7 linked regions of the Homo sapiens genome follow. The protein of the gene in region 3 purifies or fractionates together with the protein of the main gene of each other region. This does not show direct contact. Each region holds a gene or a part of one and is shown on either strand. Other genes may lie near its edges.

Region 1 (3,500 bases), on a different chromosome or scaffold from region 3:
TGGCGCTATCTCGGCTCACTGCAAGCTCCCTCTTAAGGGTTCATGCCATTCTCCTGCCTCAGCCTCCCGAGTAGCTGGGACTACAGGCGCCTGCCATCACACCTGGCTAATTTTTTGTATTTTTAGTAGAGATGGGGTTTCACCGTGTTAGCCAGGATGATCTGGATCTCCTGACCTCGTGATCTGCCCGCCTCGGCCTCCCAAAGTGCTGGGATTACAGGCATGAGCCACCACACCCGGCGTTTTCTACATTTTTACATAACATTTCTGCCATCTTCAAACATCAGTTCTTCCATCTCTTCCTCAACTATTCCTATCTACCATGCATGTGGACATTCTCAAACAACCATTAATGCTGTTTGGTAAGATTTACTGATCTCTATTAATATTATCTTGACTTTGCTTACAGAAAAAAAAGCTAGCTCTAAGAAGTATATGGAAAAAGATGCAAGGAAAGATGCTTACGGGAACAAGAGTCAAAAATAGACTACTGATAAATTTCCTCATCTTTCAACTACTGAAAACATCTCTATAAACAAATATGAAATAATACTGAAAAACTCAAACAGTATCAAAATAAATCAAAGCTATCAATTACAAAAAGGGGGAAAGAATGCAATGTTAATTGAAGGACCATCTGCTTCAGATTTTTGTCTTTTTTTGAAAGAACTACCCAAGAAATCCAGTAATTAAAACAGGTTTCATACTGATCCTGCAACTAAAATGGTGACTATATATTGCAGTTACATTAGCATTCTTTCTTCCTTATCACCATCCTGTCCATGGAGTTATTTGCTCAAGGAAACTTCACAAAGAACAAAAACAAGCCATAAACACAATAGGATCCTGGATTCTAAGTGAGAGAAAAATGAGAGTGTGAAAGAAATCATTTCTTCCACTGGACCACTGTTCAACTGTTATTAAAAACACTGTGTTCCATTCTAGTGTTTAAAGAGAAATATGGAGAAAAAGAAGACAGTCCAAAAAGCCACAAAATGCTGGGCACGGTAACTCACGCCTGTAATCCCAGCACTTTGGGAGGCCAAGGTGGGCAGATCATTTGAGGTCAGGAGTTTGAGACCAGCCTGGCTAACATGGTGAAACCCCGTCTCTACTAAAAATACAAAAAAATTAGCCAGCCGTGGTGGTGCATGCCTGTAGTCCCAGCTACTCGGGAGGCCGAGGCAGGAGAATCGCTTAAACTTGGGAGGCAGAGGTTGCAGTGAGCCAAGATCATGCCACTGCACTCCAGCCTGGGCAACACAGTGAGATTCTGTCTCAAAAAAAAAAAAAAAAAAAGCCACAAAAAATAATGGCTGTGATTAGTAAATGGAGTCTACAGAGATGGTGTGAAATACCAACCTGAACATGAAAAAAGTAATATCAAGGGGAACCTACACTAGCAATTCTACATTTCTTAAGGGAAAAAAGAAAGGCTTTTCATTTGGGCACATAGACACATATACATTCACTTCTCCTTCACTTCCCAGTATTCCAAGGAATGTCTAAAGGCTTCCGTGTGTTAGATCCTAGCTAGTGCGAGGAACAGAGTGGAACAGTAGATGCATTTCGTGCTGCCTGAAGACAAGTAGAGAGCAATGAACAACTAGCGAATGACTGCAAATGTGCAATGCAGCTATGAGGAAAAGGAGCCAAGTGGTGAGACATGCAGCAAGGTGGGAAGGGGAGTCTACCCTAGGTAAGGAGCCAAGGAACATCTGCAAGGAGGGAAAGGCGTCTAGCCTGGGCAATAAGGAGCCAGCCATGCCAAAAAGGAAGTGCAGCCTACTGGGCCAGGGGAAGAGCACAGTGAGAAAGCGCAAGGGACTTGGCCTGCTCAAGGAATCAGAAGATCAGTGGGGGTGGGGGTAGCAAGCCAAGGGAGACCAAAGGGGTGGGAAGAGCCAGATCACACAGGTAAGGCCCAGAAAGGCCCACGTCCTTCATCTCAGTAAGACCTGCTGGACAAGAGGAGTTGAGAAATTCCACTCATCTCTTCACCTGTTTATTTTACACAGCCCATAGCAGGGACTTTGGGAATCTAAAGATGGTTCCTGCCATCAAGAACTTACTTGCATGTAATTACAACTGGATTAAAAGCATACATATATACCAAAAAAAAAACCAAACAAACAAAAAAAAACAACCAGGTTAAAAAAGCTTACTGTCTGAGAAGATAAAATATTTGCATGGGAATCACCTAGCCATCAACTAATAATAAAGGATCTTGGAGATTAGCTCTTCGGTACAAATGAAACGTAAAGCGATTGCCTGCATCATAAAGCTAGTTAGGAGCAGAACTCAGCTCAGGTTCTGACTTCTAGACTAGTCTTTAATTCATGACATTCCATTTCAGACAACAACACAGGCACCAAAGGGCAACAGGTGAACAAGTACCAAAGGATGGTACAAGCATGTTTTATGGGTTCACAGAAGCTGGTAAGCAGGAGATGAGGCTCCAAGGAATAGACAGGTAGAGCCAAGTCTGGGTGACAGACAGACAGGGGAGGAGCATTTGAGAGGGCTGGGCCTGGTGAAGGAACATCATGCGGAGACAGCTGGGCCCAGAGTTAGTTCTCACTCTCCCACCTCCTAAACCTTGGTTTTCTCCCCTGTGAAATGGAAACTATAGTACCTGCCTCAGTGTTGTGTGCATTAAGTGTTAGTGTATGTAAAGAACCTAATATGACACATAGCAGATACTCCATAAATGCTGGTATAGATATCCATACATCTCCAAACCCATTATACAATGAAAATGCAACAGAAGACTGAGAGGGTAGGGAAAGGAGGAGTCCCTGTGGCTACGGCTGAGGATCTTTTAAAGTGTGAGGTAAGTTAAAACAGTAAGAGGCAGTACTAGCATGATGCCTGACCATGCCCAGCCCCAGCTGGCAGGGGCTCACTGAAGATCTGGGTAGAGCCAGAACTGTCATGGGACCAGAAGTGAGCTTTCCTCATGGAGACCCTGCCTGGAATTTACAGCAAACTACAAGTTTGTATCCTGAAACAAAATAAAGAGCTAGTCTCACAAAGGATCAAAGCTATGAAGGTCACCCTGCTCTAGCTACACACTGAACTGTTAACACACTTACCGGTTTAGGGATAAAGTGGAAGTTTGAGAGGGCATCCAATTTTAAGAAGAGGGAATCCATCATCTTCTGAATTTCTACATGTTCTGGATTTTCTTCTTCTGCTGTTTTTTGCTTAGGAAATAAGTTCAACAATGTCAAACTAAGCGACTTGATATATATCACAGGACAAAACACTAAAGGTCAATGAGAGTATTTCTAACTTCTCATCACTAAAGCTTCAGCTACAAAGAAACATTCCAAAAGCAAAATTAAAAGCAGCAGTACCATGAGGGTTCCAGCACCTACCAGAGATGTGATGTGCATTTTAGGAGCTACAGTAACCATTACCTCTAATACTCAGAACTTAAAAATTTAATTACCTTGGTATTTACTTCTGTCAAAAACTAAGCTATTCCTAAGATGGCT
Region 2 (3,500 bases), on a different chromosome or scaffold from region 3:
ACCGCGCCCGGCCAAGTTTTAAAAATTTTATCAATATATTTGCAGGCAATGAAAAACACATTTCCCAGCCATAGTGAAATGAAAGCTCTATAGATATTTTTTAAAGTATTTCCTCTCCATTTTACACAAAATTCCCTCACACAGGATGACTTCTAATGTTTAAAAAAATCACAAATTTGGAGTACAAATGAATTAGTCTGAATAATTACTACTTATATGCTTTCTTAAATCATAAAGATTATTATACTTACCAGTGATGTCTGATCCTCAAAAGGTCTTGTAATATTTTTCCTAAGAATATCAAAAAAGTGACAATTTTAATAATCTAAATAAGTATATACAATTAATATATTAAGGTAATTTTATATTCAGATGATAAAACAATTGAAAGGATATTCATTCATTCAAATATTTATTCAGTGCCTGTTATATGCCAGGCTACCATTCTAGGAGCTAGTGATACTATACTACTACATTAAACAAGATGCTTGCTTTCATGGAGTTTATAGGCTCGTGGAAAATAAGTAGTCCTCTGTACATATGGATTCTGCATCCTTCTGCATCCATGGATTGATTTGACCAACCACGGATTGACAGTATTCAATAGACAAAGAAAGTGTGTTAAAAAAAAAAAAAAAAGCAGGGGGCGCCGAGCACAGTGGCTTACAACAGTGAAATATGATCGTGCCACTGCACTCCAGCCTGGGTAACAGTGAGACCCCGTCTCTAAAAAAAAAGTTAAGAAATAAAAAGAAAAAGGAACAATAAAAAGCAGGATAAACCAGAAAATACAGCATTATAACTATTTACATAGCATTTACATTATATTAGATATTATAAGTAATCGAGAGATGATTTAAAGTATATGCAACTTACTTTTATGGGAAGCATTTTTTAAAAAAAGGATACAGGAGGAAGTGTGTGGGTTATATGCAAATACTAGGCCATTTTATGTAAGAGACGAGCATACCCAGATTTTAATAAGGGGAGGTTTCTGGAACCCATCGCCCACAGATACTGAGGGATGACTGTAGCTTATTCCAGGGCTGTGGTAAGGAAAAAGACAAGATGAACCCAGATAATTTTGTGATGTTAGAAAGTAAGGAAGTGCTCAAAAACAGGAGGCATGTTGAAAGGTCATAGGAACCAACGTAAAAGAGTTCCCAGCTGGGAGCAGTGGCTCACGCCTGTAATCCCAGCACTTTGAGAGGCTGAAGCTGGTGGATCACCTGAGGTCAGGAGTCTGAGACCAGCCTGGCCAACATGGTGAAACCCTGTCTCTACTAAAAATACAAAAATTAGCTGGGCACCTGTAATCCCAGCTACTCAGGAGGCTGAGGCAGGAGAATCGCTTGAACCCAGGAGCCAGAGGTTGTGGTGAGCTGAGGTCGCACCACTGCACTCCAGGCTGGGTGAAAGAGTGAGACTCCGTCTCATACTAAAAAAACAAACAAAAGAAAAGGTGGGGGGGGGGGGGGTTCCCAATTGCCAAACAGAACAATTTAAGCAACAAAATTAAGAACACTGGATTATAATCCAGAAGAATATATGAGGAAAGCACAACATTTTTGTAGTGTTCTTGACAAACATGCATAACCTCAATCAATTCATGAGAAAATTTAAACCCAAATTGAGGGATAATTTACAAAATAACTGACAAGTACTTGTCAAAAATGTCAAGGTCATCAAAGACAATGAAAGACTAAGGAACTGTCACAAATTGGAGAAGACTAAGGAGGCATGAAAACTAAATGCAACATGGGATCCTGAAGAGAAAAAGAGTATTAAAAGGAAAACTAGGGCCGGGCACGGTGGCTCACGCCTGTAATCCCAGCACTTTGGGAGGCCGAGGTGGGCAGGTCACCTGAGGTCGGGAGTTCGAGACCAGCCTGACCAACATGGAGAAATCCCGTCTCTACTAAAAATACAAAATTAGCCGGGCGTGGTGGCGCATGCCCGTAATCCCAGTTACTCGGGAGGTTGAGGCAAGAGAATTGCTTGAACCCAGGAGGCAGGTGTTGCAGTGACCTTAGATCATGCCACTGCACTCCAGCCTGGGCAACAAGAGTGAAACTCCGTCTTAAAAAAAAAAGAAAAGAAAGAAAAAAGAAACTGGGCCGGGCGGGGTGGCTCACGCCTGTAATCCCATCACTTCGGGAGGCCAAGGCGCGCAGATCACCTAAAGTCAGAAGTTTAAGACCAGCCTGGCCAACATGGTGAAACCCTGTCTCTATTAAAAATACAAAAATGAGCTGGGCATGGAGGTGCATGCCTGTAATCCCAACTCAGGAGGCTGAGGCAGGAGAATCACTTGAACCAGGGAGTCAGAGGTTGCAGCGAGGCGAGATCATGCCACTGCACTCCAGCCTGGCAACAAAGCTAGACTCCGTCTCAAAAAAAAAAAAAAAAACCACACAAAAATTAGCCAGGCGTGGTGGCACGTGCCTATAATCCTAGCTACATGGGAGGCCAAGGCAGAAGAATTGCTTGAACCCAGAGTTAGAGGTTGTAGTGAGCAGAGATCATGCCACTGCACTCCAGCCGGGCGACAACAGGACTCCGTCTCAAAAGAAGGAAAAAAGAAAAACTGGTGCTAATCAAATATGTCTGTCATTTGATTAACATGAGTGAATCGGTGTTAATTTATTAGTTTTGATCATTGCATTACGGTTATGCAAGATGTAACATTAGGGGAAGCCAGGTGAAGGGTATATGGGAATTCTGCATTATTTTTGCACTTTTCTGTAAATCTGTATTTCAAAATAAAATATATATGCTATGGTTACAACTATGCAAGGACATTCAATACAAATGAAAAAAACAGACCAAAAGAAAGAAATTAAAATATTAATAACTGTAAGGAATTTTAATATCTTTTTAAAAAGTTTTTGTTTTCCAAATCTTCCATAAAGTGGTTACTTTTATAATGAAACAAAATCATTTAAAATACAGTAAAAGAAATCATGACTTACTTTTTATATAGTACACCGTATGGTTTTTTCAGTGCATACTGTAAAACAAAATTTATAGCTTTCAAAACAAAACACATTCTGAAAAGCAGAAATAAAAATAAAGCATCATAACAGTCACTCTCCAAGATTGCTCTGGGGCCTCAATCTTATTCTGAGGGCTTCTGCCTGGCTCCCTTTTCATCACTTACAGTAACTTGAAATGTAAGCTTAATATTCTTGGACTAGACTTTCCTATTTAAAAGTTTCTATGCCCTGTCAATAGTCTATCCAACTTAAACAATTTCCTTCATTTCTTTAAACTCGACTTAGTCCAGTCTCTCTCTAGGGAAACAATTCCAGGTGCAGTGGCTCACGCCTGTAATCCCAACACTTTGGGAGGACAAGGCAGATCACTCAAGCCCAGGAGTTCGAGACCAGCCTGGGCAACATGGCAAAACCCTGTCTCTACAAAAAACTGCAAAAATTAGCCAGGCATAGTGGTGCATGCCTGCAGTCCCAGCTACTTGGGAGGCTAAGGCGGGAGGATCA
Region 3 (3,500 bases):
TACCATGGAACAGATTGGATAAACTGTAAAAACCTCTACATATCAGATGATACTCTAAGCATAAGTCAAACAAAGAGCCTTAACTAGCACTCTGTCTACTATAGGATCAAGTTCAGAGTCCTCATGAAAGACGAGACCTTTCCTGATTAGTCTCATCTCCCATCACTTCCTTGTGCATCCTGCACTCCAGTGCGTTTTCCCTTCATTATCTATGAGCTGTTGCCTTATGCTTCATAAGTAAAATTATAATGTCTCCTTCTCCACATGATACCATCCCCCACCTTTCCAGGAGAGTTAGGTGGTTCCATCTCCATACACTGTGTACTAATGACCTTGTAATATAATTATTGGCATGCATATCTACCACTCCCACCAGACCATGAACTCCTCCCAGCAAGTATTAAATTCTATTTGCCTTTCCTTAGCCCCTGGCTCATAATGAGTGCTTAATAAGTATTTAGTAAATAGGGCAGACGGATGTGATAGATTGTACATTTTTTCAGATCAGGTTTGGGAAAACTGGTAATTCTCTAACACCAGTTGAAATCTTACTGTTCTTCAAGGGCCAGAGCAAATGCTAGCTCTTCCTTAGAGATTAGCTTAAATTCACTTGCCCCACAGTTAAAATTTCTCACTCTTCTGGGTTATTGAAATTTTGTCAAAGCACTTCTGATGCTTCCTTGAGTTGTAATGTTGTGAGTCTGTCTTTCCCACTAGCTCCTTTTGTTAGGGTAGGACCCGTGTTCTATTCATCTTTGCTTCTCCCTTAGCATTTTGGAGATTGTAGATGTGTAATAAATATATTGTTGAATTGAGTGCAGTAAGAGATTTTCCCCCTGATGCCACAGTGCTTAAGTTGAAATGAAGTCTATGGCTTGGTATTTTCTCCAGGTAATACCCATTTTTCTCTTTCTTCCCTCTCTTCTTTGTAGATGAGGAAATATCTGATGAGGAAGGGTCTGGAGATGAAGATTCAGAGGGACTGGGTCTGGAGGAATATGATGAGGACGACCTGGGTGCTGCTGAGGAACAGGAGTGTGGTGATCACAGGGAGAGCAAGAAGAGCAGAAGCCACTCTGCAAAAACACCGGGCTTCAGTGTCCAGAGTATCAGTGACTTTGAGAAATTTACCAAGGGAATGGATGACCTTGGGAGCAGTGAGGAGGAGGAAGACGAAGAGAGTGGCATGGAAGAAGGGGATGACGCGGAAGACTCCCAAGGCGAGAGTGAGGAAGACAGGGCTGGAGATAGAAACAGTGAGGATGATGGTGTGGTGATGACCTTCTCTAGTGTCAAAGTTTCTGAGGAAGTGGAGAAAGGAAGAGCCGTGAAGAACCAGATAGGTTTGTACATGGTTTTGCTGATTGCCTGTTTTTCAAAGTATCTGCATTTGGTCTACTTTTCATTTGTTTGTTTTTGGCTATTCTCTATCTCCTGTGTCCTTTCAATTAGTTTGTGACATGCCCCACTTACCCAGAAGCCTAAAGCCCTATTCCTGTATGCTTAGCCAGCCATTTCTGCACTGATCTGCTTAGCTGGTTCTGCTCTAGTACTTCCTGCAACTGGGGAAGATTGAAGAGAAGAGTGTTTTCTCCTCTCCTTGGGTTTTAGCATTCCCACTCTGCTGTAGCAAATACTTGCTTCATGGATACTGAATTTATTTTCTCTAATAGAGAATATTTGTTTCCATGGCATTAAACTGCTAAAGCTGTGGTGCTTAGAGACTGGTGTGGTTTCCTGTTCTTCCCCACCCCTGCCACCTCACCCCCAGAATATTTTATTATTGAGGAATGGGATTCTCTTTTCTTCTTTTCAGCACTGTGGGACCAGCTCTTGGAAGGAAGGATCAAACTACAAAAAGCTCTGTTGACCACCAACCAGCTTCCTCAACCAGATGTTTTCCCATTGTTCAAGGACAAAGGTGGCCCAGAATTTTCCAGTGCCCTGAAAAATAGTAAGAATACTTATGTCCTGTTGGAATACTTAGAACCACTTTGTCAAATGAAGACAGCTTTGATTGAAGTGGACTGGGAGCTTGAGCCATGTTTATTGTGCTTTCTTCTCATCTGCCCTTGCTCTCCCCTCCCCATCCCCCTTGGCTTTCCAAGTTGCTTTTTTTTTTTTTTTTTTTTGAGACAGAGTCTCGCTCTGTTGCTGAGTCTCAAGTACAGTGGCGCGATCACAGGTTACTGCAGCCTCGTCCTCCTGGGCTCAAGCAATCCTCCCACCTCAGTGATCCTCCCACCTTAGCCTTCCGAGTAGCAGGGACCACAAGCGTGCACCACCCTGCCTGTAGAGAGGGATATTTTGTAGAGACAGGGTCTCACTGTGTTGTCCAGGCTGGTCTCAAACTCCTGGCCTCAAGCAATCCTCCCACCTTTGCTTCCCAAAGTGCTAGGATTACAGATGTGACCTACTGAGCCTGGCCCTGAGTTAATTCTTTAAAGCTCAGGGGACACTGGTTGAAAACCCACTGATGTAGAAAGGGAGAAAAAGAATGTCTAATTCAGCTCATTAAACTTGGTTGTATCATGTGTTTAAAAGATGCTTCCTATGTTTGAGAGGTTTTTAGAACAATGTGCTAAGATGATCTTATTTATATCTTTCTTTGAGTGACATAGAGTGAGGAAAGATGATATGCCGAGGGAGAAACACATTTTAGAGGAGAATTACTGAGCTATAAAGAATTCTAGAAGAGGAAAAGGAATTGAGAGACTATTTGGTTCCCAATGTCTTCATTTTACACATGAGAGAATTAAGACCCAGAATGACTTGCCCAAAGTTGCAGAGCTTATTTGTGTATGGCGGAGATGAGGCTCCAACTTTTCTACCTTATGATGTAGGAATCTTCCCTCTGCACCACACTGCCTCCTGTGTGCTGCTTGCCTGTGTGCCCAGTGGCACTGAAGGACTGGGGCAGAGGGAGATTTAGGGTGAGTGTGCTGTGTTTGGGATCTGTATATATCTATATCTAGATATTCAGAGTCCTCATGAAAGAGATATCTATATCCATAGATATAGATATATATGTATAGATTATGTATCTATCTCTCTATATATATATTTGGGAGGCCTTGGCCTCCCAAAGTGTTGGGATTACAGGCATGAGCCTCTGCGCTCAGCTGAGATCAATATGTCTTACTTGCATGCTGAGACTTCATGTTTTCATTTGCTCTTTAAAACTTATTTTTTTAGTATCATGGAGTTAGAGTTGGAAGGGACCTGAGGAGGATATCTAATTTGGCATCTGCCTGTAGGTAGAACCGCCTTAAGACATTCAAGATCAATGTGTAGGATTTCCCAGGTAGGGAGTTCAGTGAACGTTTCTTGTAGGTGAATACCTGATGTAATTAGGAATGGCTTCCTAGAGTCCAGTTTTTGGGTTTTGTGTCCCGCCACACTTAAAGTCTGCTTCTTCCCCTGTGGGAAGTCTGGGCAGTCCTTCCCAGGAGCCTTACGTGGCCTGTGTGGGTGAGGTGGGCCATTTATATCCCCGCCCC
Region 4 (3,500 bases), on a different chromosome or scaffold from region 3:
AACATTATTGTTTAATGATGCTGGAAGGAAACATTTCCTTTATATACCCAGGTTCCTATGTGAACATGAGCTTCTTCAATCATATAGCAAGGGGATTTTTGGCTGAGATAATCTAGTTAAATTAAGTGTATTACCACTGTTCTTTTTCTCCTCTTCTTAAAAGAGAATAATTAAATGCAAGGTTATATTTATCAAAGAAAACATACTAATCAGAAATTCTGAAAATTAAGATTCCCATAGCAAATTACCTCCTTCACAAAATGTACCAGGAAAATTTTCAGGAAATTCACTTTTCAGAGCCAAAATCAGAGATCTGAATTGCTTATGTGGAATATTAGTGTTCCCATTCAATATTGTTCAGATTTTTTGAAACACAGTTTATTTCTTATTGAAAAATAGTGATGCCTTAGAATATTGTTTAATTTAATCAGAGAAACAACTTTTAGGAATATCTTGAATACTGAGGAAAAAAAATACTGGCTAATTACATATTTCCCAAAAAGCTTTGTAAAAGATGAGTAGAAAATGATTTAATATTCATTCAGAGCATGTGACTGTATTCCTGAAACACAGCACTCATCTCACTAAACTGGTCTTGCTAAAAAGACTGCAGGATAATAAGGCTTATACACTGTTTCAAATTACTTATTCAAAGTCAGGTATTAGTAATCCTAAGCATAAATTAGTTTCCTGTTTTCCACACACAAAATCAGTCTTCCTACATTTAATTCATTTACAATAAACTACGGAATATGATCTAAAAACAAAAATCTTGGACTCAGAAAGCTTACTCGAAATTATCCAATAATTTTTCACACTTTAAGCCTTTTTGCATATGCACATACTTGGGTCATCCGAAAAATTCCAGGTCCCTGGCCACCTGCAGTCACACATGCAATGCCCTCTGCATGTATGATCTGAATCAATGCTACAGCTGCACTTAAGCCACTTCTGGGGTCCCACTTAATTCAGCTCCAGAGGTTGTCCCTTTATGTCACTTAAACTTAATATAATACCCGGTGAATAGTATGTTAAGAGGTCATTAGAGTTTTGGGAATGAAATGGATATTTTGATTTGGCAAAAAACTGGATGGCTGCTCAGAGCCTACTCTGATCAGTACTCACATGCCCAGGAGTCATGGAATAGACCTGGGCTCCAACCATACAAGAAAGGCTGGTACCTTTAAGGCCTGGTGTCTGAAGGTCATAAAAGGGTGTTGTGATATGGCCACTGGGGATCCTGGCTAAGTATCAAAACATCCAGCTGTCTATGTATGTGTTCAAGAACTGTGTATGATCTCTTAGGGCTACAATAAAATCTCTAGAACTCTGCAGTTCCTTAACATATATATATATGTGTGTGTGTGTGTGTGTGTGTGTGTGTGTGTACGTGTATATATATATATATACACATATATATGTGTGTGTGTATATATATATATATATATATATATAAAAAACAGTGAAAATACTAATGCTTAACATTGAGGCACTGAGAACATTTATAAGGGTGAATTATAGGACTAAAACATTCTTTAGAAAACTGTACCTAAGTACTCACATTTTCTATTAGGTCACAAATGATAGCATTATTGAAGTAGTCAATGTGAGTCCATTCTATATCCTAAAAGACAAAACAGAACAAAATCCAATGACACAAGATGAAGCCACGACACTACCATCCATAAAACAGACTTTGACCATCTTATCATATTTCCCTTCCTCTCTGAATTTATTTTCTTTATAGAATGGGTACTGCAAATGTCACAGGCAGTTCCCAAAACTTTCTCAATGCAGCTGCCTACCACTGACATAATCTGATTGAAGCAAACACCCTTGACCTGTTCTGAGACTGCCTTCCATTCCACTCTCCCATCTGCAGCAATTTCCCATGCACTTCACTGGCCCTGGGCCAAATATTTACTCAACAGGCCCTTGGGTCAATATTACGTTGTGTATGTTTACAATGTTTATAAGGAAATAAGTTAGAACTTGATCCCAAGAATTTAAAGCCTAGATTCTTCTGTTCTGAATCTGTAATCATAAGGAAAAAAATTAATTTTAGAGTCAATCTTGTGTTGTAGGGAAGTTAACTCTTTCAAGTGTTAAAAAAAACAGGCCAGCGCTACCACAAAGTATTTTCAACATAAGGAAAGACATGAAAATCTATCCACTGGTTCTAACACTGGCTACAAAGCCAAATCCATAAAGCCAAATGTAATCTTTCTGTGTCTACTTAACATTCTGTCCATAAATGTAAACATTTATTTGTCTTCTATTCATTACAGCAAGCTAGCAATCTTCCTATATATTCTTAGAAGTGTTTTAAACAATCTGTATAAACTGTTTTAAGTTACCCATCAAAGTTTGGGCATTCTCTTCATGATGAGAAGACAGGAAAAGAATGAATCGTGCTTTTAGAATATTTATGTTACTAAAAGGTGCCAGACAAGTATAAAACATTTCTGAAGCATAATGAGTACTCTAAAATAAAGATGAAATATTTATGATTTAGCTTTTGAGTAAATGGGTTGTTTTACTAAGCCACTGGGGATAACAATCACATTAGAAAAATCTATATGGAAAGAAAGATAAAAGAGAATTCAGTGTCCTTAATGGCTTAAAATGATACTAAGAAAATAAAGGAAAACAGGTAATATCATTACTAAAATATTAAGGCAAATAAACAAAAAAGGAAATAAAAATATAAACATAACAATTCCTTTTTATTTTTTGAAATAACTAATTTTACACTTGAAAAAAGACTGGCTATTTTAAAAAATAAAAGGGTGAAAAGCAAATATATATTTTTAAATTAATGATGAAAAGACTCTGCAAACACTACTTCTGGTTATTTTAAGATTATATTAAATGAGATAATCTATACATAGCACTTAATATAATACCTGCTATGTAGTAAGGACTCAGTAACTGTTACCTATTTTTACTATAAATTTGAATACTCAATACTTTTTGATATTGAACAAAGTCTCAAAATATTTTCAAATCTACTTACAGTGATGCTGACTTTTTTGGTATACAGTTCTCTAAGTTTTGGCAAATGTATAATGTCAAGCAACCACCACCATTATCAGTCCCCAAAATTCTCTTTGCAGCCACAACCCTCTCACAACTCCTATCTCCTGGCAATCCCTGACTCTATAGCTTCTTATAGGTAATCAGTCTCTATAGCTTTGCCTCTTCTAGAATGACAGATGGAATCATACAGTATGTAGCCTTTTGAATATGGCTTCTTGTTTAGGCTATCTTCTGAATTAGAATTTATATTACGAGTAAAAAAGGACCAACACTTTTAAAAATAGCATTTCAACATTACCTCCCGTATATACTCCTCCTGCTCTTCTTTAAGAGTAAGTTCAATGAAGATTTGTTGCAGCTTTTCGTTACAATAATTAATAATGAACTGCTCAAAGCTGTTGTCCTGTATGGAGAAAATGAAAAACAGCTTTATAAACCATGCCACTAGCTCTCTCAAAACA
Region 5 (3,500 bases), on a different chromosome or scaffold from region 3:
ATTAGCCCAATGTGGTGGTGCAAGCCTGCAGTCCCAGCTACTCAGGAGGCTCACGTGGGAGGATCTCTTGAACTCAGGAGGTTGAGTCTGCAGTGAGCCATGATCGTGCCACTGCACTGAGCCTGGGTGACAGAGATCCTGTCTCAGAAAAAAGGAGAAGAAGGGAGGGGAGGGGAGGGGTGGGGAGGGGAGGGGAGGGGAGGAAAGGAAAGGAAAGGGCTATTTATCTAAGACTATTTATGGGCTAATCAAAAAGCCACATAATAAGGCAGATAAGCAGTAAGGTCCTTTCCCAATGAAGTAATGGTTAAGTATTTTAATATCAAACAGCACAAAACACATGCATCCAACTGGACATGGTGGCTCATGCCTGTACTCTCAGCTGCTTGGTAGGCTGAGGCAAGAGGATCACTTGAGCCCAGGAGTTTGAGGCTGAGTCATCACACCATAGTACTGCAGCCTGGGGAACAAGCAAGATCCCTGTCTCTAAAAAACATACAACAAAAGATACATACACATCCACCCCTATTTTTGAAGTTATAGAATAACATCATAAAAATACTCATGATGAGTGGTTAAGTATACACACAAATCAATAGTGTGGTTCCATTTCTCAAGTAGATTCAAAAAAATAAGAATAGAAACACAAATATTAATATGTATAAGATAACAGGTTTTTCTACCTTTCCTTGGATTTATTTCCATGAGAGAACTACAGTGAACACACTGCCTTTTTTTTAACACATTACTTCTACTAGCAGAAAAAAATTAGGATTACATAAATTTGATTTGCATCAACTTTTGCTTACATTATAGGATATGGAGAAGTCTTTCAAGAATTTGAAACCTAAAAGTAACTTCTTTGATTATTTCAGCTAATACAATCGTACTTTTTATTCCTATTCCTCAAGCACCATCTTCTGAATGTTAACTCTGTTCTGAGATTTACATTCTTTTTAAATACTACTAAAAATATTCTGGAAAAAACTCCAAAATAATAGAAAATCAATTGATACTTTATGTAACCTGCAAATTCTAAAATATTAAGTAGTTTGCTTACATGACCATAGATAAGCTTAGTCTGAAAGATGTCTTTTTAAGTTAATTTCATCTGTTTCAGTTCTGTATTTCAAACTGTATATTATTATGTTTATTTATCCTATTCTCTTAGTCCCCCTAGAGTTTTGTTTTGTTTGAGTTTTTCTGAGCCAGGGTCTCACTTTGTCACCCAGGCTGTAGTGCAGTTGAGCAGTCACGGCTCACTGCAGGCTCGACCTCCTGGGCTCAATTGATTCTCCCACCTTAGCTTCTCAAAGTGGTAGCATTAGAGGTGTGAGCTATGGCACCTGGCCCCACAGAATTTATTATGAAGAGCCTGAAAACAAAGTTTCAGCTGCCACAGAATTGTAATCCACAATATAAATTCTCTCCTATCTGTTCACTTCAGCAAAACCTAACAAAATATTAATTTTCAGAATACAACTGCCCTATTTCTTCAACTACTTAAAATAAATGAGACTATCATTGAAAAATACACTGTGACCCACAAAATTTTGCTGGACAAAATCTCCAAAAACTATCACAGAATAAACATTTTACTAGTCAACTGACATGCTAAGATTTGAACTTGCTGGAGCTCTTTTTACCTTTGAAGTGTGTGATTTTGCTGCTTTTAGAATTTAAATATTCCTACAATGTCGTTCAGCCATGGTGCCCTGTGTATTTTTACATAGCCTAAGGAGAATGTAACAGGTGGCTGAGGCTCAATTCTATACATGTAGGTATATGGCTATAACACATTTGCCTAAGATCTAAACAGAAAGTTGACTCAGCAGTTAACCAAATATGTTCAAAATCAATTGCCAGTCAAGGATGCCTATAGGTCTAACATGTAAGATTTGTAATCAATGGGAAAAATGTTTGCACTTGATAGTAGTTTGATAAGATGGCAAACACAATGCTTTAAAAGTTTGAGTTGCTAATTATCAAATACATTTATAAACACAAGTATATGCTTTCACTTAAAGATATGTAAAAATTAAAAATGAGTGAAAGTAAAGTTCTAATTACGCATTAACTATTTGAGGTGTTTCTGTAGTCTAGACTTGTCTAAATTCTGGAAAAGAGGCAAAGCAGACAGAGCATTTTGCACTAAGTATGTGACATTACATAAATGTTTAAAGTACTTTGAATTTCCAAGTAGCTCAACCTGTCTGTTAAAATATGCACAGTTTTAAATTGGAAGAAAAAAATGAAAATGTTTAACAACCTCATAGGAAATTAACCTATACAGTAACTACAATTTCTGATTTGGGCATTTTTATAACATTTTCACAAACATCATTTTATTTAATTCATGTAACAATCCTGTTAGATAACCAGCATTCATTTCATTTGACGGATCAGTAAACTAGTACAGGGTATTTAAGTTAGTTCTTCCCAAACTTTAGTGTGTACCAAAATCACTCAAGTTAAAATGCAGACTCTCAGATAACATCCCTAACCCAGACTGGGGTGGATTCCAGAAATCTGATTTTAAATAAATGGCAAAAGTGATACTGGTAGAGATGGTCCCCCCAGAAACATCTTTTAGGACACTGATTCTAGTACTGTAACTAAAGTGGTAAGCAGTGGAAACTCCTTTTTTTTTTTTTTTTAACTCTGAATCAATGTTCCCAAATGTTTAGATGACAGAGCTTTGCAGATCTCCATGAAAGATATGTAAAAGTTTTATTAAGGTGAAAGTATTACACTCAGTTAAATTGTTAGGTTTTTGCAAAAGTAATCCAACTATTAGGCTGGTGCCATTACTTTCAATGGCAAAAACTGTGATTACTTTTGCACAAACCTAATAAATACCTATTATACTAAACTCCACTGCAAACAAATGGTAGTAGGTGCCCAAGTTTTAAGAAACTTAAAATTGAGGAGATCCTACCATAATTTCATTTTCTCTGTAAAGTGGGAAAGGCTGATATTAAATTATTTTAAGTTAATGGCTTCTCATAATTTGAATACCATATCACTTTACTGAAAGGAAAGCTAAAATTTAGGGACCAGAGGTTCTAAGAACATAATGAAAAATAAAGATGAAAATATAAAAGCACTTAAGAGCACACCGTGTGAATACTAAAAAACCACTGAACTGTACACTTTAAAAGGGTAAATTTTATTGTATGTGAATTATATCTCAATTTTTAAAAAAGGAAAAAAAGCACAGAGAAAATGTCAAACCCTAATATTTGCCAATAATTTTATACTTATAAAACATTATATCAACCTTGCTATTAAATGGCATAATTATTTTCTGGCACACATCATAGGTGCTAAAAAAAAAATGCAGAAATAATAAATAGCATAGATAGGCTTGGTACGGTAGCTCCCACCTGTAATCCAAGCACTTTGGGAGGCTGAGGCGGGTAGATCACTTGAGGCTGGAAGTTTGAGAGCAGCCTGGCCAACATGGCGAAACACCATCTCTACTAAAAATACAAAAATTA
Region 6 (3,500 bases), on a different chromosome or scaffold from region 3:
CCATTCTGTGAATAAGGAAAACAGGTTAGACAAACAATCTAAGGTCACAAAGTGAGAGCAGAGAGAAGTACCCTGCCCATGTTCTAATTTAAATCCCATCACCTTCTCCCTTCACATTGATGTGCTGTTTCCCATGTTTTCACCAGCGAGGTACCAAAACTTACTTCCTTTCTTGAATCCCAGGCAAGGTAAGGCCATCCTCTCTCCTGGCCACTCCCTTAGATCACTCTGGACCAGCCAGGGAGGTTTTTGAGTCTGGACTGAGGCACCTGCTGAACCTCCAGTGGCCCCAACACCCTAATTACTCCCTTTGAGCTGTCTTGGGTTTTGCAAACAGGGGAACTCCCATCTGCCAAGCTCTCCATCTTAAAGAGGTTTTGTAGTTTCAGGCCGGCTGCTCCTCCTCCTCCTCCCACCCTGCCCACCTCCCAGAAAAGAGAATGGGTGCTCAGTAACAGCTATTAAGATTGCTTACTCCAGTTCAGGTCCCACTATAGACAGTGGGTGGGTCAGCAGAAAGACCCCGACCCTCAGGAGGTTCAGAGTTCAAGAAAGCTTGTGACTACCCTCTACCTCCCAAAGGGCCAAAAACCACTTCCTAAAAACCTTCCCCTACCTGGCAGGCACTCACTTCCGGGTTAGTATGAAACTCAAACTACCTGTGCAAAAGGAAAGGGGCCAGGCCAGCTGAAGGCTCCCGATGAAAGCTGCCTCCCACTCTCCCCTTCAAAGGGTGTCCTAATTGTGACCTTTCCTTAGAAGAAGAGAAAGTGATTCACACTATATTGCTTCTTGGCCTTTTGGCTAAGATCAAGTGCACAATAGGAAAAAGCCTTAAGTCTTATGTAATAGACTAACCTAACAGTTCTTAGGTGGGGGTGCACAATATATCCAGTTACACAGTTAAAAACAATCATAATACCATTATCACCCCTGACAAAATAAGATAATTTCTTAACTTAGTCAATTTCCTCAGTTGTCATCAAAATGTCTTTGGACATTTGGTCAAGAATCAAGATCCAAACAAGATCCACAACAATGCACGACTGATGTCTCAACTTTCTTCATCTGTAACAGTTCTTCCCTTTAAAAAATGCCATTTATTTATTGGAAATAGTGTGTCTTGTAGAATTTCTCACATTTAGAAACTGAATAACTGCCTACCTCATGGCTAATTAGTCTGTTCCTGTAGCCCCATTTCCCTATAAACTGGCAGTTGGATCTATGGTTCTGTTAGATTTAGGTTCAGTTTTTATTTGGTGGAGGAAATTTTCAGGCAGTGCTGTGTGCTTTCAGACACTGTAAGGCACATAATGTCTGGCTGCTCCATTATACACCCCCAAGCCATCGACTTAGGCTCCTGAAGCCAGAAGAGTTTCTCCAGCCTCCAGAGAGCTTGGATTCCTAATCACAACGCAAATACAAAGCTACACATATATAAAGCTCTACTTTGGTTTCTTTCTTTTGTGGGGAGGGAGTTTTAGAAAAAAATTTTTGATACTAGAAAAATTTTAAGACATTTAGACCTAGTCTAATACCCTGATTTTACAGACGAAGAAACAGGCACAGAGAAAGCAAAGCGTTTGCCGGTGTCCACATTGCTGGTCATGAGCAGGATCAGAAGTAGCTCCTAGGGCCGGGCGCGGTGGCTCACGCCTGTAATCCCAACCCAAAACTTTGGGAGGCCAAGGCAGGTGGATCACCTGAGGTCGGGAGTTTGAGACCAGCCTGACCAACATGGAGAAACCCCGTTCTACTAAAAATACAAAATTAGCCGGGCATGGTGGCACATGCCTGTAATCCCAGCTACTCTCAAGGCTGAGGCAGGAGAATCGCTTGAACCCGGGAGGTGGAGGTTGCAGTGGGCCGAGATCACACCACTGCACTCCAATCTGGGCGACAGAGCCAGACTGTCTCCAAAAAAACAAACAAACAAACAAACAAACAAACAAACAAACTTAGCCCAGCCTATCTTAAATGCACTCAGAACACTTATATTAGCCTACGGATGGCCATAGCATCTAACATAAAGCCTATTTTAAGCGTTTAATGTCTCATGTAATTAATTTATTGAATACTGTACTGAAAGTGAAAAACCATGGTTGTATGGGTACCTGAAGTACAGTTTCCAATAAATGTGTATCACTTTCCCAACAACATAAAGTCAAAAAATCATAAATTGAACCATCATAAGTTGGGGACTATCTGTACTCTCAAGTCTCACGGCACTACATGTGCACCAGCCACAGCAAACTTTCAGTCCAGTTAGGCTGGCTTTTCCTCATATCCCTGAGAGCACACGTGCAACTCCCCCCAAAGAAAATCTTTACAAAAGGCAAACTAAAAAGTTAAAACTTATTTTTTTAAAATTCATCTCACCACATTCCAAAGCAAAAAATAGCTAATTCTTAAGAGTCAGCAACCTTTAAATTATCCATCCATGCCCTTCATGTCTGTGGATAAGCAAAAGTCAAGTTTTAAGGAGACAGATCCCATACATTTCACGGAGTACTTATATAACACAAGAAAAGGAAAGATCTGCATTCACCAACCCCATCATATTACAGGTAGAGAAAACCAGAGACCCAGGGAAAAGTCCCACCAAGACCCAGAGTAAGTAACAATGTCTACCTGCCAGGCACTGGGCTAAATACACTTATCATAACAATGAATGCTGGTAATACCCCCATGAGGCAGGTGAATCATAAATACCTATTACACAAATTAAGAAGGTGAGGCATAGAATGGTTAAATAACTTGCCCAAGGAAGCACAGCTAACAAGTGGTACAGTGGCATTTGAACCCACTCAGTTTGACCCCAGAATATTCGCTATGTATCATCTCTTAACTTAGACGTCTTGGATCTTATACTTAAAAGGGGTATGGCTAGGATAAGACAAAAATTTTAAACATTTAAAAATACTCTGGGGAGGGAGGGAGATCTAAAAAACCAAAATGCAAATCCCAAGACTTAAAACTACAAATGTAAGACTTGGACGCTTAAACCAGAATACAGAACCCCACAAGAAAGTAGAGATATCACGAAACATATTTTATTACTAGTTACTGCATGTGTCCCTTAAAGAACTAAAACACCAACATTTGAGCCAAAAGTAAGGCTAAAAATAGGCATTTACAGCAAGCTTTGGAAAGCTTTTAGTTTGCTTATGAGGTACTCATTTCTGTAGACTCCCAAAAACATGTGCATCACAGAACACAAAAATTCCCAAGACCACACAGCCACTCCACTAGTGTCACGTTTAAATTTGTCGAAGCTGTAAATAAAACCAGGGCTGGAAAAGCACTTCAGAGATCCACGTAGGCTCCAGAGAAAGGGTCATCATCTAGCCTTACCAGACTGACAACCCAATCATAGAATTCTCTCTCAAAATGCACACAAACCCTAACAACAGGCTTAGAGAGAGAAGCTACTGGATTAACTTGAGTTAGGCTGTCAAAACCTATTCCAAAGGTTCTAAACCAACAAGTAGACACTCTCT
Region 7 (3,500 bases), on a different chromosome or scaffold from region 3:
CCTGCTTCTTTGCTTTCTCCTGCAGGCCCAGGCAGAGAGGGGGAGGGCATGGGCTTTCCTCCAGGGCTGGGGGGTCCTCCCCAGCTCACCCCCCACACTCACCCTCTTCTTTCGCTCCCGAGTCTCTTCCCTCTTCTCCTTTCTGCGCTCATCCTTACGGCGCACGGAGGACGCGATGCTGCGTGGGTAGGTCTTGACCTAGGCGCAATCAGAAAAGCCCACAAGGGCCGCAGAGATGATGTGGGGTTCCCTGGGCCTGAACCCTGGGGGCTGAGTCCTCCCCAGCCCCAGCCACACACCGATGCTGAGTCCGGCTCCTCGAAACGGAAATTGTACTTCTGTTCAAAGTCCTCCTGTTTCTTCAGAAACAGCTCCCCTTCGTCTGAGGAGTCGTCCACAGCCAGCTGGACTGGGGGACCGTGGACCCTGAGGGGCAAGATGTGGTGATGCCAGGGGGCCAGCCAAGTGAGGTCGAGCCCCCCTTTCCTGCACGCCTGGGTACGAAGCGTATGAACTCATTTAATCCTCACAAGAACCCTACAAGGTGCACGCTGCTATTGTCCTCATTTTACAGATGGGGAAACTGAGGCATGAAAGTCTTGAAGCCGAACCAGGATTTGAGGCAGTGCCACCTGGCTCCAGAGCCTATACTCTGTGGCTCTGCCTTACAGAAGACTAACTCTGCCACCATCTGTGAAAAAAATACACACATGGTGCCCTCTGCCTCCTGGCCAGTGCCGCCTGGGAATACTTCATGAAGCGCACCCAAAATCTAGGTCCTGGGGAGATGCAGTGGCTCACCCCTCCTCTTCCTCCATTTCCTCTTCATCTTCCTCCTCCTCTTCCTCCTCCTCATAGCGTTTGTTGAGGATGTAATCCCGCAGGAACCGCTCCCCTTCATCCAACTCAGGGTCGTTCCAGTATTCCTTGAGATGCGTCTGGGGGTGACAGGAGACAGGACTCTGGTCAATGGAGGACAGGGAAGGAGGGCAGGCATGCTCACCACATGGACCTCACAGCCAGCCTCTGGAGTAGGTGACATTAGCCCCATTTTGGTTTCTTATTTTTATTTCGAGACAGGGTCTTACTCTGCCATCCAGGTGACAGTACAGTCGTGTGATCATAGCTCACTGCAGACCCAACCTCCCGGGCTCACAAGATCCTCCCACCTTAGCCTCCCAAGTATTTGAGACTACAGGTGCATGCCACCATGCCTGGCTAATTTTTTCATTTTTTTGTAGAGCCATTTTGCTATGTTGCCCAGGCCAGTCTCAAACTCCTGGCCTCAAGCAATCCTCCTGCCTTGACCACCCAAAGCACTGGGATTACAGGTGTGAACCACGGCACCCAGCCTATCCCCATTTAAAGAGATGTAGGAGCTGAGGCCCAGAGATGTACATATCCCATCTTCAGAGGGTTACTTTCTGTAAATAGGTTGGATGGACGCGGAACACGCGGTCTACTCCATCAGCGACCATGCGTGAGAACTCACCAGTTCCTTCAGGGAATCTGGGTTCCGAATCTCTTTCTGTCCCTTCAGCCACTCGATGTAGTCGGCCTCCTCCTGGGCCTGGGGGAAAGCTAGCACTGAGCATCCGCAGATGCCCAGCCACCCGCCACCCTGTCCCCCAGCAGTCCAGTCAGGCCCCAGTACCCACCTTCTCCTGCCTGGTTTTGGCACGTTTCTGCAGCAAACTGGAGCCGCCCTCCCCAGCGCCGTCCTCGTCCTCACTGTCCTCCACAAATGCCCGGAAGCTGCCCACGAGAGAAAACAAGCCTCAGGACAGGCAGGCTGGCCCCTGTCTGCTGCCCCAGTATTTATTTTATTTTGTAGAGCTGGGGTCTCACTATGTTGCCCAGGCTGATCTTGAACTCCTGGGCTCAAGTGATCCTCCCTCCTCTGCCCACCAAAGCCCTGAGATTACAGGCATGAGCCACCTCACCTGGCTGGCTGCCCCAAGATTAACCCCATTTACTAAGCCCTGAGCTCTCCTCTCAACAAGCTCAGAGCAGTGCTGTGATGTTATTAACCCCGTTTAACTGATGAGGAAACTGAAGCACATAGAAAGTGACAGAGCTCAATTTGAACCCGTGCCTATCCAACCCCCGAGCCTCAACTTTCCTCCATTGGGCCATTCCCGCCCACCCAGCCTCACCTTTCCTTGAGCTGTTTCTGTTCCTCCACATAACTTTGCGACGATGTCTCCTGCAGAGAGGGCCATAGGTCTCAGGCCAGCCCCAGGCCCCTCAGCCCCCCGACCCAGCCTTCACCCCACCCACCTGGAGTCTGTGATTGGAAGTCTCCCCGTCTGAGTTCTCCTCATCAACATATTTGCTGTAAAGGAAAAGTGGGGTCTTCAGAATATATCTTCCAGGGCCCGCCTGTCCCCATGCCCATGCGGAGCAGCTATTCCAAGCAACAGCTGGCGGGGGTCATCGGAGGGCTATGGAATCACTGAGACTCCTGCTCTCAGGGCTATCTGCGATTCTGGTGAGTTTCCAGCGTTTTTTTTTTTTTTTTCTTTTCCAATCATGGGTGACAGCATTTCTTTTTTGGAGCCAGGGTCTCGCTCTATCCCTCAGGCTGGAGGGCAGTGGCATGATCTCGGAAAACTGCAACCTCCACCTCCCAGATTCAAGCGATTCTCCTGCCTCAGCCTCCCCACGTAGCTGGGACTACAGGCGCCCACCACCACATCTGGCTAATTTTTGTATTTTTAGTAGAGACGGGGTTTCACCATGTTGGCCAGGGTGGTCTCAAACTCTTGACCTCAGGTGATCTGCCCGCCTCAGCCTCCCAAGGTGCTGGTATTACAGGCATGAGCCACCATGCCCGGCCTTTTTTCTTTTTGAGACAGGGTCTTATTCTGTTGCCCAGGCTGGAGTGCAGTGGCCTGATCATAGCTCACTGCAGCCTCCATCTCCTGGCTCAATCCTCCTGCCTCAGCCTCCTGAGTAGCTGGGACTACAGGTACACATCATCATGCCCAGCTAATTTTTAATTTTTTTGTAGAGGCGGGGTATGTTGCCCAGCCTGGTCTCAAACTTCTGTCCTCAAGCGATCCTATTGCCTCAGCCTACCAAAGTGCTGGGATTATGGGCATGAGCCACCATGCCCGGCCCAGGCTGCCAGCTTTTTTCCCTCTCCTGCCCCTAAGACCCCCATAGACCTGACAGGGCTGGGAACCAGGGGGTGGGGATGTAGGCCTTCTCCATACCCTGCCTTCTCCAAGATAACCTTCCTCTCGTAGTCCTTCAGGTACATGGGCCGCACTTTCTTCTGCTTCTCCAAGGCTTCTGGGTCCTCCTCACTGTCTGATGACGATGCTGTTAACCCACCAAAGACACCTGCCATCACCCACAACCCCCTTCTTTGCCGTGGCAGAGAATCCCACAGGGCAGGGCCAGGGTTAGACAGAGGATTCAAATCCCAAATCCACCAATTCCCAGCTGTCCAAGAGTATTGTGCTTGTCACCATCTGGTGGGGTTGGGGTCATTC

The links.
Region 1: the proteins of AATF (region 3) and MPHOSPH10 purify together in Homo sapiens (affinity purification with mass spectrometry; 2 studies listed by BioGRID, with this or other methods). This does not show direct contact.
Region 2: the proteins of AATF (region 3) and RPF2 purify together in Homo sapiens (affinity purification with mass spectrometry; 2 studies listed by BioGRID, with this or other methods). This does not show direct contact.
Region 4: the proteins of AATF (region 3) and MYO1B purify together in Homo sapiens (affinity purification with mass spectrometry, with the first as the bait; one large-scale study listed by BioGRID). This does not show direct contact.
Region 5: the proteins of AATF (region 3) and PAWR purify together in Homo sapiens (affinity purification with western blotting; one study listed by BioGRID). This does not show direct contact.
Region 6: the proteins of AATF (region 3) and LARP1 purify together in Homo sapiens (affinity purification with mass spectrometry, with the first as the bait; one large-scale study listed by BioGRID). This does not show direct contact.
Region 7: the proteins of AATF (region 3) and KRI1 fractionate together in Homo sapiens (co-fractionation; one large-scale study listed by BioGRID). This does not show direct contact.

The regions. Positions count from the first base shown.
Region 1 is NC_000002.12:71,144,134-71,147,633, reverse strand, and holds part of MPHOSPH10 (U3 small nucleolar ribonucleoprotein protein MPP10), read right to left. Parts: intron 3,207-3,500; coding exon 3,096-3,206; intron 1-3,095. UniProt on the Homo sapiens protein: Component of the 60-80S U3 small nucleolar ribonucleoprotein (U3 snoRNP). Required for the early cleavages during pre-18S ribosomal RNA processing. Part of the small subunit (SSU) processome, first precursor of the small eukaryotic ribosomal subunit.
Region 2 is NC_000006.12:110,988,538-110,992,037, reverse strand, and holds part of RPF2 (ribosome production factor 2 homolog), read right to left. Parts: intron 3,011-3,500; coding exon 2,973-3,010; intron 292-2,972; coding exon 252-291; intron 1-251. UniProt on the Homo sapiens protein: Involved in ribosomal large subunit assembly. May regulate the localization of the 5S RNP/5S ribonucleoprotein particle to the nucleolus.
Region 3 is NC_000017.11:36,951,954-36,955,453, forward strand, and holds part of AATF (protein AATF), read left to right. Parts: intron 1-932; coding exon 933-1,343; intron 1,344-1,816; coding exon 1,817-1,954; intron 1,955-3,500. UniProt on the Homo sapiens protein: Part of the small subunit (SSU) processome, first precursor of the small eukaryotic ribosomal subunit.
Region 4 is NC_000002.12:191,381,404-191,384,903, reverse strand, and holds part of MYO1B (unconventional myosin-Ib), read right to left. Parts: intron 3,443-3,500; coding exon 3,338-3,442; intron 1,625-3,337; coding exon 1,562-1,624; intron 1-1,561. UniProt on the Homo sapiens protein: Motor protein that may participate in process critical to neuronal development and function such as cell migration, neurite outgrowth and vesicular transport.
Region 5 is NC_000012.12:79,680,965-79,684,464, forward strand, and holds part of PAWR (PRKC apoptosis WT1 regulator protein), read right to left. Parts: intron 1-3,500. UniProt on the Homo sapiens protein: Pro-apoptotic protein capable of selectively inducing apoptosis in cancer cells, sensitizing the cells to diverse apoptotic stimuli and causing regression of tumors in animal models.
Region 6 is NC_000005.10:154,758,377-154,761,876, reverse strand, and holds part of LARP1 (la-related protein 1), read right to left. Parts: intron 1-3,500. UniProt on the Homo sapiens protein: RNA-binding protein that regulates the translation of specific target mRNA species downstream of the mTORC1 complex, in function of growth signals and nutrient availability.
Region 7 is NC_000019.10:10,559,511-10,563,010, forward strand, and holds part of KRI1 (protein KRI1 homolog), read right to left. Parts: intron 3,328-3,500; coding exon 3,219-3,327; intron 2,336-3,218; coding exon 2,281-2,335; intron 2,207-2,280; coding exon 2,157-2,206; intron 1,756-2,156; coding exon 1,659-1,755; intron 1,571-1,658; coding exon 1,493-1,570; intron 939-1,492; coding exon 802-938; intron 427-801; coding exon 300-426; intron 199-299; coding exon 103-198; intron 20-102; coding exon 1-19.